Homo sapiens: one gene and its partner. The protein of the gene in region 2 interacts with the protein of the main gene of each other region in a biochemical or structural test. Each region holds a gene or a part of one and is shown on either strand. Other genes may lie near its edges.

Evidence for each region. The genes of interacting proteins can lie anywhere in the genome.
Region 1: the proteins of TRIM49 (region 2) and LGALS3 form a complex in vitro, tested with the Homo sapiens proteins (one study listed by BioGRID).

The regions. Positions count from the first base shown.
Region 1 is NC_000014.9:55,139,141-55,142,936, forward strand, and holds part of LGALS3 (galectin-3), read left to right. Parts: intron 1-1,134; coding exon 1,135-1,223; intron 1,224-3,443; coding exon 3,444-3,609; intron 3,610-3,796. UniProt on the Homo sapiens protein: Galactose-specific lectin which binds IgE. May mediate with the alpha-3, beta-1 integrin the stimulation by CSPG4 of endothelial cells migration.
Region 2 is NC_000011.10:89,804,825-89,810,894, reverse strand, and holds the start of TRIM49 (tripartite motif-containing protein 49), read left to right. Parts: upstream 1-2,319; 5' UTR 2,320-2,458; intron 2,459-3,610; 5' UTR 3,611-3,796; intron 3,797-6,070.

The sequences.
Region 1 (3,796 bases), on a different chromosome or scaffold from region 2:
ATACCAGAGATGGTTAGTCAGTTGCAGAGAGAGGGAGACATGAAGGCTGTGGAAAGGAACAGGCAGATGTAAGAGAGATTACAGAGGAAGAACCCCCAGAATCTACTGATTATGTCTTAGGAGTCATAGAGGACTCTGACTTTTCAAGGCTGAGCAACTAGAGCCATCAGCAAAGCTTTAGCCCAAACTGGGAACTCATGAAGGGGAACTGATGGGGGAGGGGGTAGGGAAGACCATTCTAGTTCACACTTGTTGAATTTGAGGCACTAGCAGCAAATCTAGGTGGGAGGAAGTACAGGACTAGTACACACCAGGACTAGAAAGAAAATATTTGGATAGGCTGGGTGTGGTGGCTCATGCCTGTAATCCCACCACTGTGGGAGGCTGAGGCAGGAGGATCACTTGAGTCCAAGAGGTTGAGGCTGCAGTGAGCTATGATCACACCACTGCACTCCATCCTCAACAACTGAGACTCGGATTTTTGAGACCTTGTCTCAAAAAATAAAAAGGTTTGGGTGATAGTTAAACCCAGGGGGAAGTCTTAAAAAGGGAAAGAAAAGAGGCCATAAATAAATAGAGCTTTGGGGATATTCACAGTACCTTGAATGTAGTTGGTCAATAAACATTTGTGGAATGAACCTCACAGTGTTAACAGTGTTCATTCCATAAATATTGAGTATCTGCCATATGCAAAGCACTCTGCTGGAGCCATGTGAGTACAAAGCATATGAGAACCCACAAGCCCAGAATGTGATATGCTGCTTGCCCCCAGGAAGCAGAATATCCACAGTAAAGCATGTACCATGACAGGGCCTTAAGAGTGATACAAAAATGTTAATGTTGATCACAAGATCTAGCTTAAGCCTTTCCAAAAATAGTCAACATGAATGAGTACAAATTGGGATGGCCGTAGTAATGAGATTTACTGATGGCTTTCTTTTCAATTATTTGTACATCTAGGGAGCCTTATCTCTTTGGCCCCTGGGCAAAGTGGCCTGAGAGTCTGGACAGATGGCATATACTAGAGTTATGTGTTTTTCACACATATTAATAGTGATGGAACTTTAGCAACATCGTTTTTTCCCCAAAGAAACATGACTCCTTATTGACACATATGTACTTGTTAATTCCCAGATTGTGCCTTATAACCTGCCTTTGCCTGGGGGAGTGGTGCCTCGCATGCTGATAACAATTCTGGGCACGGTGAAGCCCAATGCAAACAGGTAAGGAGAGCAAAATTAACAAGTCTACTCTATTTGTAGATTGGTTTTTGAATAAAGAATGGCCTACTTTTTTTCTTCTTGCCCTGTCTTACAGTGCTATTTTGAATTTTAGTAAAATTTTAAAAACTACATATTTAGAATCTTGGCTATACCATCATATAGGATTATCCCATAAATCCATACATATTCCCATATAATTTTGCTAAGCATCATGGCACTCATAGTAAACGGTAACACACCTTATTCTATACTTTGATATGTATTATGTCAGCTAATCTTCATGGCTGAAGGCAGGATAAGGAATATTGCTCTCCCCTTTTTATAGACAAAACTGAGGTTCAGGTTCTACAGATGATCAGTGGCAGGCCTGGGAACCCGTCTTTTGAGCAGATACTATTTGCTTATGGGTTTGAAGAGATTCTACAAGTTAAAAACTTCATCATTATAAATCAACCTTTACTATTGGAAGTAGTTTGATTGATGAGGTGGGCTAGGATGGGGTGAGGCTTTATTTAGGAAAATACATGCTAATTATGGCTGTCCTGGGCTGCTTGGCCCTGGTTGTCACCACTGGTTATGTAGTACTTACATATCATACAAGGAAGCTGGCCATGTCCTGAAACCATCTGAGATGCCTGCCCCTAAGGTTAGTGGAACTGTCTCTAGGTCTTATGGACAGTACCTAAATGGCACAAATTCAAGCCATGTACACAGGTTTATGCAAGAATCCATAAACAGTCTCAGTGTCTGTCACCTTGCTCCACATCCTGCAATCAAGAGATGGACTTCACTTCTGATCTGATAATTTCACATTCAAATGCTCATTCCCTCCACCTCAGCCAGCCTCCTCTGCTTCTGCAATGGTAGTCACTATCCTAAGCCAACCCATCTTTCCACACAGCCTAGACAATTTCTGTAAGCACAGAACTTCCCCGTACAATAATGCCCGTCTCATAGCAAATTACAAAATATATACATCCTCTACCTATGTCCTTATCCGTATTTCCTCCCAACATCACATAGAACCCAGCACACCTTATCCTGTGCACACAGCACTCATGATTTATTAAATATCTGCTCTCCTCCTCCCACAACCCCTAACGCACACTGAATACCCAGTTTGGTATCCTTGTCTTGTTAGAGTCATTTCACTGGAAAGTTTAGTTCTAATAATGCTAGAGATGTAGATTGAGACTGGCAGATCAAAACTAATTCTGGTTGAAATGGTTAATGGTAGTAAACTTAAAAAAAACTGTTGCTTAGTCCTGCAAATTCTATATGACGAACTGTGTAGAAAAAAAAAGTGCTTAAGGTGACAGAGATGACAACATTGTATATTTAGTCAAATACAAATTCTATGCTGTTTTTTCCTTACAAATTTAATCACTGGAAGATCATTTGTGGTTGAATGTGACTGTTACTGGGTGAATCAAAATACACAGACAATCTTTGTTAGTTGGTCTAGAGTGCAGATTAAAATACGAATACCTACTGATGACTCTGGTGTTACCGCTCTATAGAGCGCACTTTGAGAAACTCAGGGATGGGGTTAGTCAAAGAGGACTTGTGTTTGCATTAACCTCCAGGGAGAAGGAACAGGGTCAAAAAGCTAAACTAGCAATTTCATTGGTTCTGGCTCACATCATAGAATGTTTACCACATTTACTATCATGACTTTACAACTTAGCAACAAGATACTGAATATTAACTACCTTATCTCATTCTTGCTGTTTTAGAGGAACTAGGGCTTCTGGTTAATTATGAGGAAGCCAGGTATTTGATGGCTGTTAACTATATAGCTGGCTTGCCTTTACCAGGTATTGAAAGCAAACTGGAAGAGCAGGAAAGAGATAACCATTATCTATAGTAAGGGATAAAGTGTCCTCAGAGTGGCTCTAAACCTCTGTAAGAAAACCTCGAAGGGTTTTCATGAGTCTGTAGGGGCATTACAGATGAATGGAAATATGATCGAAGACAATGAGGCAAAAAATTCAACATCTATTGTCTTGCTTACCTTTAGATTTTGTGATAGTACATAGAATATCAGGCATAGGATATTTTCCAGTTTGAACCCATTCTGATTTATTTGCTTTCCATTCAGAAAAATTTCCTAGGTACTGTATTATGAAATTATTTGCTTTTTAGAAAATTACATGTTCTTTACACAGTGCAAATGTACAGCTTTAATCATTTTAATAACTGGTCTTTGGTTTAAAACAGAATTGCTTTAGATTTCCAAAGAGGGAATGATGTTGCCTTCCACTTTAACCCACGCTTCAATGAGAACAACAGGAGAGTCATTGTTTGCAATACAAAGCTGGATAATAACTGGGGAAGGGAAGAAAGACAGTCGGTTTTCCCATTTGAAAGTGGGAAACCATTCAAAGTAAGTTATTGCTACTATTATATATTGATAATGTATATTTCTCATGAGGAATCACTCTAAAACCCCAAAGCACTTGAAGTGAGAGTTTTTATCACCTCTCCTAAGGTGCCTAACCAGTTTATCTTCTCCCTGCCCAGGGGACCAGGCTCAGCAGGCTGAGAACATGGCCAGGAGTGGCACACTCCCC
Region 2 (6,070 bases):
CTAGAGTGCTGTTTGTAACTGTTGCCTCCATTATTTTCTCAAGGAAGGAAACCTATTTGATTCTGATTTTTACAGCCTAATGATAATGTAGCTATATTCAAGAACTCAATGTTTCATTCATCAGAGGAAGAAACTTCAGAATGTAGGCTGAACCTCACCTGAACACACAAGCACAGAAGGAATCATATGTGTTTCTGTGGCTCTAAGTGAGAAAATACGTTGAGAGATTTGAGGATTTATGGAGTTGACGACATGTAATTGATCCCTGAATCCATCCCATACAGGAAACAGGACCATAAAAAGATTGCTTACGACCGGGCGCGGTGGCTCACGTCTGTAATCCCAGCACTTTGGGAGGCTGAGGCGGGCGGATCACGAGGTCAGGAGATTGAGACCATCCTGGCTAACACAGTGTAATCCCGTCTCTACTAAAAGTACAAAAAAATTAGCCGGGCATGGTGGCGGGCGCCTGTAGTCCCAGCTACTCGGGAGGCTGAGGCAGGAGAATGGAGTGAACCCGGCAGGTGGAACTTGCAGTGAGCCAAGATCACGCCGCCACTGCACTCCAGCCTGGGCGACAGAGTGAGACTCGGACTCAACAACAACAACGAAAAGCTTACCTTTTATGTGCTCATATGTAAAGTTGGGACAATGCTACACATATTGCATGTTTTCTGTGGAGATTAGGAACAATGTGTGCATGGAGACAGCACAGTAACTGGTACATCATAGCCCATGTATCACATTGTCCCCTTCCTTTTTCTAACATATTTCTCTCCACTCAAATAGATAAGAGGTTTCAAGAGAAAATGACTGGGGTTTGTAGAAAAATAGACAATAAACGGGTAAAACAATTGAGAAGAAATGCCAAAAAAAAAAAAAGCGTTAAAGAAAAGATAGCCCTGGACATTCAGGATCCACAAAGCAAAATATAAATTTGTGGAAAATTAATAAATTTTGTTAGCATGGGAAAAAATATGCAGAATTCTCTCCATGTGCGCAAATAAAACAAACAAAATGTCAAAGTAGTTATAATACCTAGGTTTTAAATGGTATTTATCATAGAATGGCATTTTTATAAAAATTTAAAAATTTCCAGAATTAAATAAAGTCAGATTTCTACATATGTTAAGGAACGAGAAATAGATCACCAACTTTCATACAAAGATTTTCCAATGAGTTTTAGAACCCAGATGAACAAAAGAGTCTATTACCAGATTCTCAAAAATAGATGTGTAATTCAACAGAAAACTTTGTGGTAGAGGTAGGTTTCAGATGCTAGAATGGAAACAGTCTCATGTACAAAAAAGTATCTTTTTTATTAAAAGGAGAAGCACTGGGAAATAAGGAAATATTCCAAATTGGCTGGAGTGTCCTTTATCCACATCACGGATTGTTCTTGCCTATACCCACCTCTACTCTCTCTTCTGGATTGGGTAGGACTTTTGGAACCTACAAAATGCCAACTCTAAAGAGAATTACTTTCTTATATTTGTTTCATGGTCTGAGACTCAAGTAGGAAAATAGGTTGTTTCCTTGATAATGCCACAGTAGACAGAGGTAGGTCTGTAATTGAAAGCTCCTAATTTCCAGTGCTCTAGGCTTCAACTGCCTAAAGCTGAGTGTTTGAATAAGTGAATGATGTGGTGCAAAAAGTGGTTGAAATAAAATCAGAAGCTACCTACCTTCCTTTCTCTCCTTGCCCTAATTCCTTCCTGATACACAGCATCATCAGACCTTGTAATGGAGTACCAGGGCCCCGCCACGGAGCTCCAGAATTTAAGCAGAGAATGTCCACAGGATCAAGTCCATGACCCAGGGTTTCACAAGTTTCCCACTCTGGAGTCCAGGACTGAGCCAAGAGGGCCCCCACACACAACCAGCGCAGATCTTACTTCTGTGTGGACACTTTGGTTAATTACTTAGATTTATTGAGGTACAGAATGTGCATACAGGGTGGTCAGTCAGTTGGTGGTCTTGGATAGTAAACTGACAATAGAACAAGAAAATCTATTGTTCAATTCCTTGTATTTAATTAAATATAAACTCTGGATGATTTTATGATGTGTCAACTTGAGTACATGTATGTACAAAGAGGGAAATGAGGGCAGTAGCCATTTTGTGGCATAGACATACCTTATTATTCTTCAATGAAACACTTACTTAGGACCTGCTGGAAAGGCATTTTGCAGATGCGAGCAAAGGTCCTAATCCTGTAACTAGGAAGTGTACCCAAGTAAGCCTGACTTCATCAGTGAAAGTCCTTTAAAGAAACACATAGGCATTCCTTGAACAACATTTTAAATGGCAAATGGGACTCTAATCTTCCAGTTGCCCCCTATTGACTTTAAACCAAAGCTTTGATTCATGACCACTGGGATCCAGCCAGCGGGGGATTTCTTTTCCTGATGGACTGTACCCAGGATCTCACATTTGCTTAAGCAGCTCCCACAATTGGGTAAGTCAAGTCTTTGCACTTAATTCATATGTGAATCTCCCTAACTATACATATATCTTATGGGTTCTGCTTTTGTCTTTGAACCTGGACAGACCTGGGTCTGATAGATTTGTCTTCACTGTTTTGACAGTCTTGACCATAAGTCTTCTGGACCATTGGCAAAGAATTCCTCTATCAGAAGATATTTGAGTAGTCCCTTCTGAAATCTCTTTTTTAAAAAAAATAATTTTCATATAACAACAAAAAGACTTGGCATAGAAAGAAAAATATAGTCCATCTCTATCATTTGGATTCTGTATTTGTGAATTTGCCTATATGCTAAAAGTTATGTGTAATCCCCAAAATAATTCCCGTGGTGCACTCCTAGTCATTGTAGGACATCATGCACTATATGGAGAAAAACGTTAAAATCATAACTCATCTTTCACCCATGAGACTGGTGAAGTTTTGTAAATTCAATGAGAGACCCCAGGTTAGTGGGTTTATTTGGTTAATCAGTGATTTCTCTTAGAGTGGTAGAAAACAGAAAACAAAAAGGAAAGTTTTATCTTCCATTGGACTTCTCTGGAAATATCCTATAAATGTACTAAAGCAGCATTTAAGCTGGATGAGGTGGTTTATACCTGTACTCTTAGCACTTTGGAAGGCCGAGACCAGAGGACCACTTGAAGCCAGGAGTTGGAGAACAGCATGGGCTACAGAGTCATACACTGACTTTACCAAAAATTTCAACAAAAAAAATTAGCCAGGTGATATAGTGTGAGCCTAAAGTCGTAGCTACTTGGAAGGCTGAAGCAGGAGGATTACTTGGAATTCAAGGCTGCAGGGAGCTATGATTATGCTACTGCACTCCAGAAGGAGACCCTTTCTCTAGAATAAATAAATGTGCACTTAGAGGAATGCCTGTATCATGGAAGAAACTCAATAAACAGTATAAAATGCATCTTAGTTAATTTCTAGCCTATGTATGCTCTGACAGGATTTATGTTACATATGATTCATTCAGGCACTGGTGTTCAGAATGAAAGTGTGATGATAATTTAATCAGAGCTGCAAAGGTGTGTTCTAAATACTGCATAAACCTAATCATCTTTGTCTCCACCTTTCTGAATGCTCTAAATACCCATAAAGAGGTGGGTGTGGTCTTCACAGGTTCTTATAAAAGGACACGGAAGAGACAAGCTCAGTTTTCTCTGAAGGAGAAGGACTGCACTTAGAACTGCATTTTGGCGACCTCTGAAATTCAGTACTGCAGTGAATGAGCTTCTGATCTTGAGGTGAACTTAACAAAATTATTTTTGGAAAAATCGTTGTGGGAACCATTAAAAGAACTCCAGGGTGAGTGAAACATATTGATAAAATTATATCATCTTTCCTTTACACAATAATAAATTAGAGTGTTAAAAATATCTCATTATCTGAAATCTACACAATGATACCATTTGTAACTCATGTTCTTACTATAGATTTTATGAATTATAAGGATACTAATTGTTGTTATTTTGTGCTTTCTATGATTGTTTAATATAGTTCTGAAAAACTTAAAATATCTAGTGTTTGCTGCAACAGATATGTATTCATAATGAATATATGGAGTTGATACATATATGTACACATAGGTGTGTGTGTATATGTATGTAATGAGTGTATTAATATTGTCAAATTGAATTGAGAAGACATTAATGAATGATGAAGTTATTTGCTTTCATAACATTCAGGTTTTAGACATGACTTTAAATTAGTAAGGTAATGATGAGCGATGCAAAATAGTGAAACTAAAACAATGAGAAAGCTCCCCAAAATATCCTACTTTAGAAATCAAAACACAATTTTTCGAACAAGTAAATTTATAAGACCTAATATGGTATGTGATTGTGATTGTCATCTCACTTGAGTCTCAATCTTATTAAACTGTGAAAAATTTCTTAAAATGTCTTAGATGAGTTCTGGAAAATATTTGCAATTCTAAGATTTTTCACTGCTTTCACTTAAATTCAGAAGTGATATAAAACTAGCAGCTTTATGCTGCTTTATGCTAAAGGATTTAAAATTGCCAAAACAAAGATTATAGTTTTTATATTAGTCAGGGTTCTCCAGACAGAACCATAGGATGTATACATATATGTGTGCAGATACATTCATGGGCCATTTGAGTCAGCCACAAACCACATATGGGGGTCCCATAAGATTATAATACCAATATGTTTACTGTACCTTTTCTGTATTCAATTATGTTTAGATACACAAATAGTTATCATTGTGTTACAGTTGCCTACAGTATGCAGTACAGAACATACTGTACAGGTTTGTAGCCTATTGTAGGAACAATAGGCTATAGTGTATACCATAGGTGTAGTAGGCTATACCATCTAGATTTGTGTGGTATATTCTATCATATTAAAACAATGAAACCGCCGGGCTGGGCACTGTGGCGCGTGCCTAGAATCCCAGCACTTTGCAAAGCCAAGGCAGGCAGATCACTTGAGGCCAGAAGTTCAAGTGCAGCCTGGCCAAGATGGCAAAACCCCATCTCTACTAAAAAAATACAAAAATTAGCCAGGCCTAGTGTCACGTTCCTGTAATCCCAGGTACTTGGGAACCTGATGCAGGAGAATCGCTCTGAACCTGGAGGCGGAGGTTACAGTGAGCCGAGATCACGCCACTGCATTTCAGCCTGCGTGACAGAAGGATACTCTGTCTCAAAAAAAAAAAACAAAAAAAAACTAAAAACACCTGACACATTTCTCAGAACATACATCTGTCCACAAGCTATACATGATTCTACATGGGACAGAATTCATCAGGAAAATTAATTTGCTTGATTATGGAGTCTAGAGAGTTCCAATATAGGCTGTCTCTAAGCTGGTGTCCTGAGAATACCGGTATCCTGGCTAAGCTCAAGTCTGAAAGGTTCAGAACAAGTTTCAGGAGAGAGACGGAGGAAGTTGCCTTTTTTCTGCCTTTTTCTTTATATCTGAGGTGTCAGCTGATTGGATGGTGCCCACACACATTGAGAGATGAGGCTCCCACTCAGCTCACCAGCTCACATGTCTCTCTCCTCTAGAAACACCTTCACAGACTCACCCACAAACAATGCTTCACTAGTTCCCTAGGTGTTGGTTAATCCAGTCAGACTGATACCTAAAATTCACCATCACACTATGGAAATATAATTACACCTCTCTGAGTTTAACAAAAACCTCCTATATGTTAGTTCAGAGCTTGCACAGCCCTAGGGGAAGTTAATTTAATCCGCAAGAAAATAAAAAGACCCAATATCTTTAATAATTTTTCTTTTCCCTACTAGTGAAACTTGATTAGTTTAATTGCAGTCTTTTTCTTTGTTTATTTGGTTGGTTGGCTTTTTTTTAAATTTTGTTTTGATTTGGGTCTTTGTTTTTAATTTAATTTAATTTTAAGTCCTGGGATAACTGCAGGACTTGCAGGCTTGTTATGTAGGTAAACTTGTGCCATGGTGGTTTGCTGCCCGGCTTTTGTGACTCTCTATAAAAATATGTCATAGAACCATCTTCTCATATTTCTTTGGCCATCTTCTCATATTTCTTTGGCCCGGGTAGTTTTTTCCCTCCCACTCTTTCACAGTCATTCATC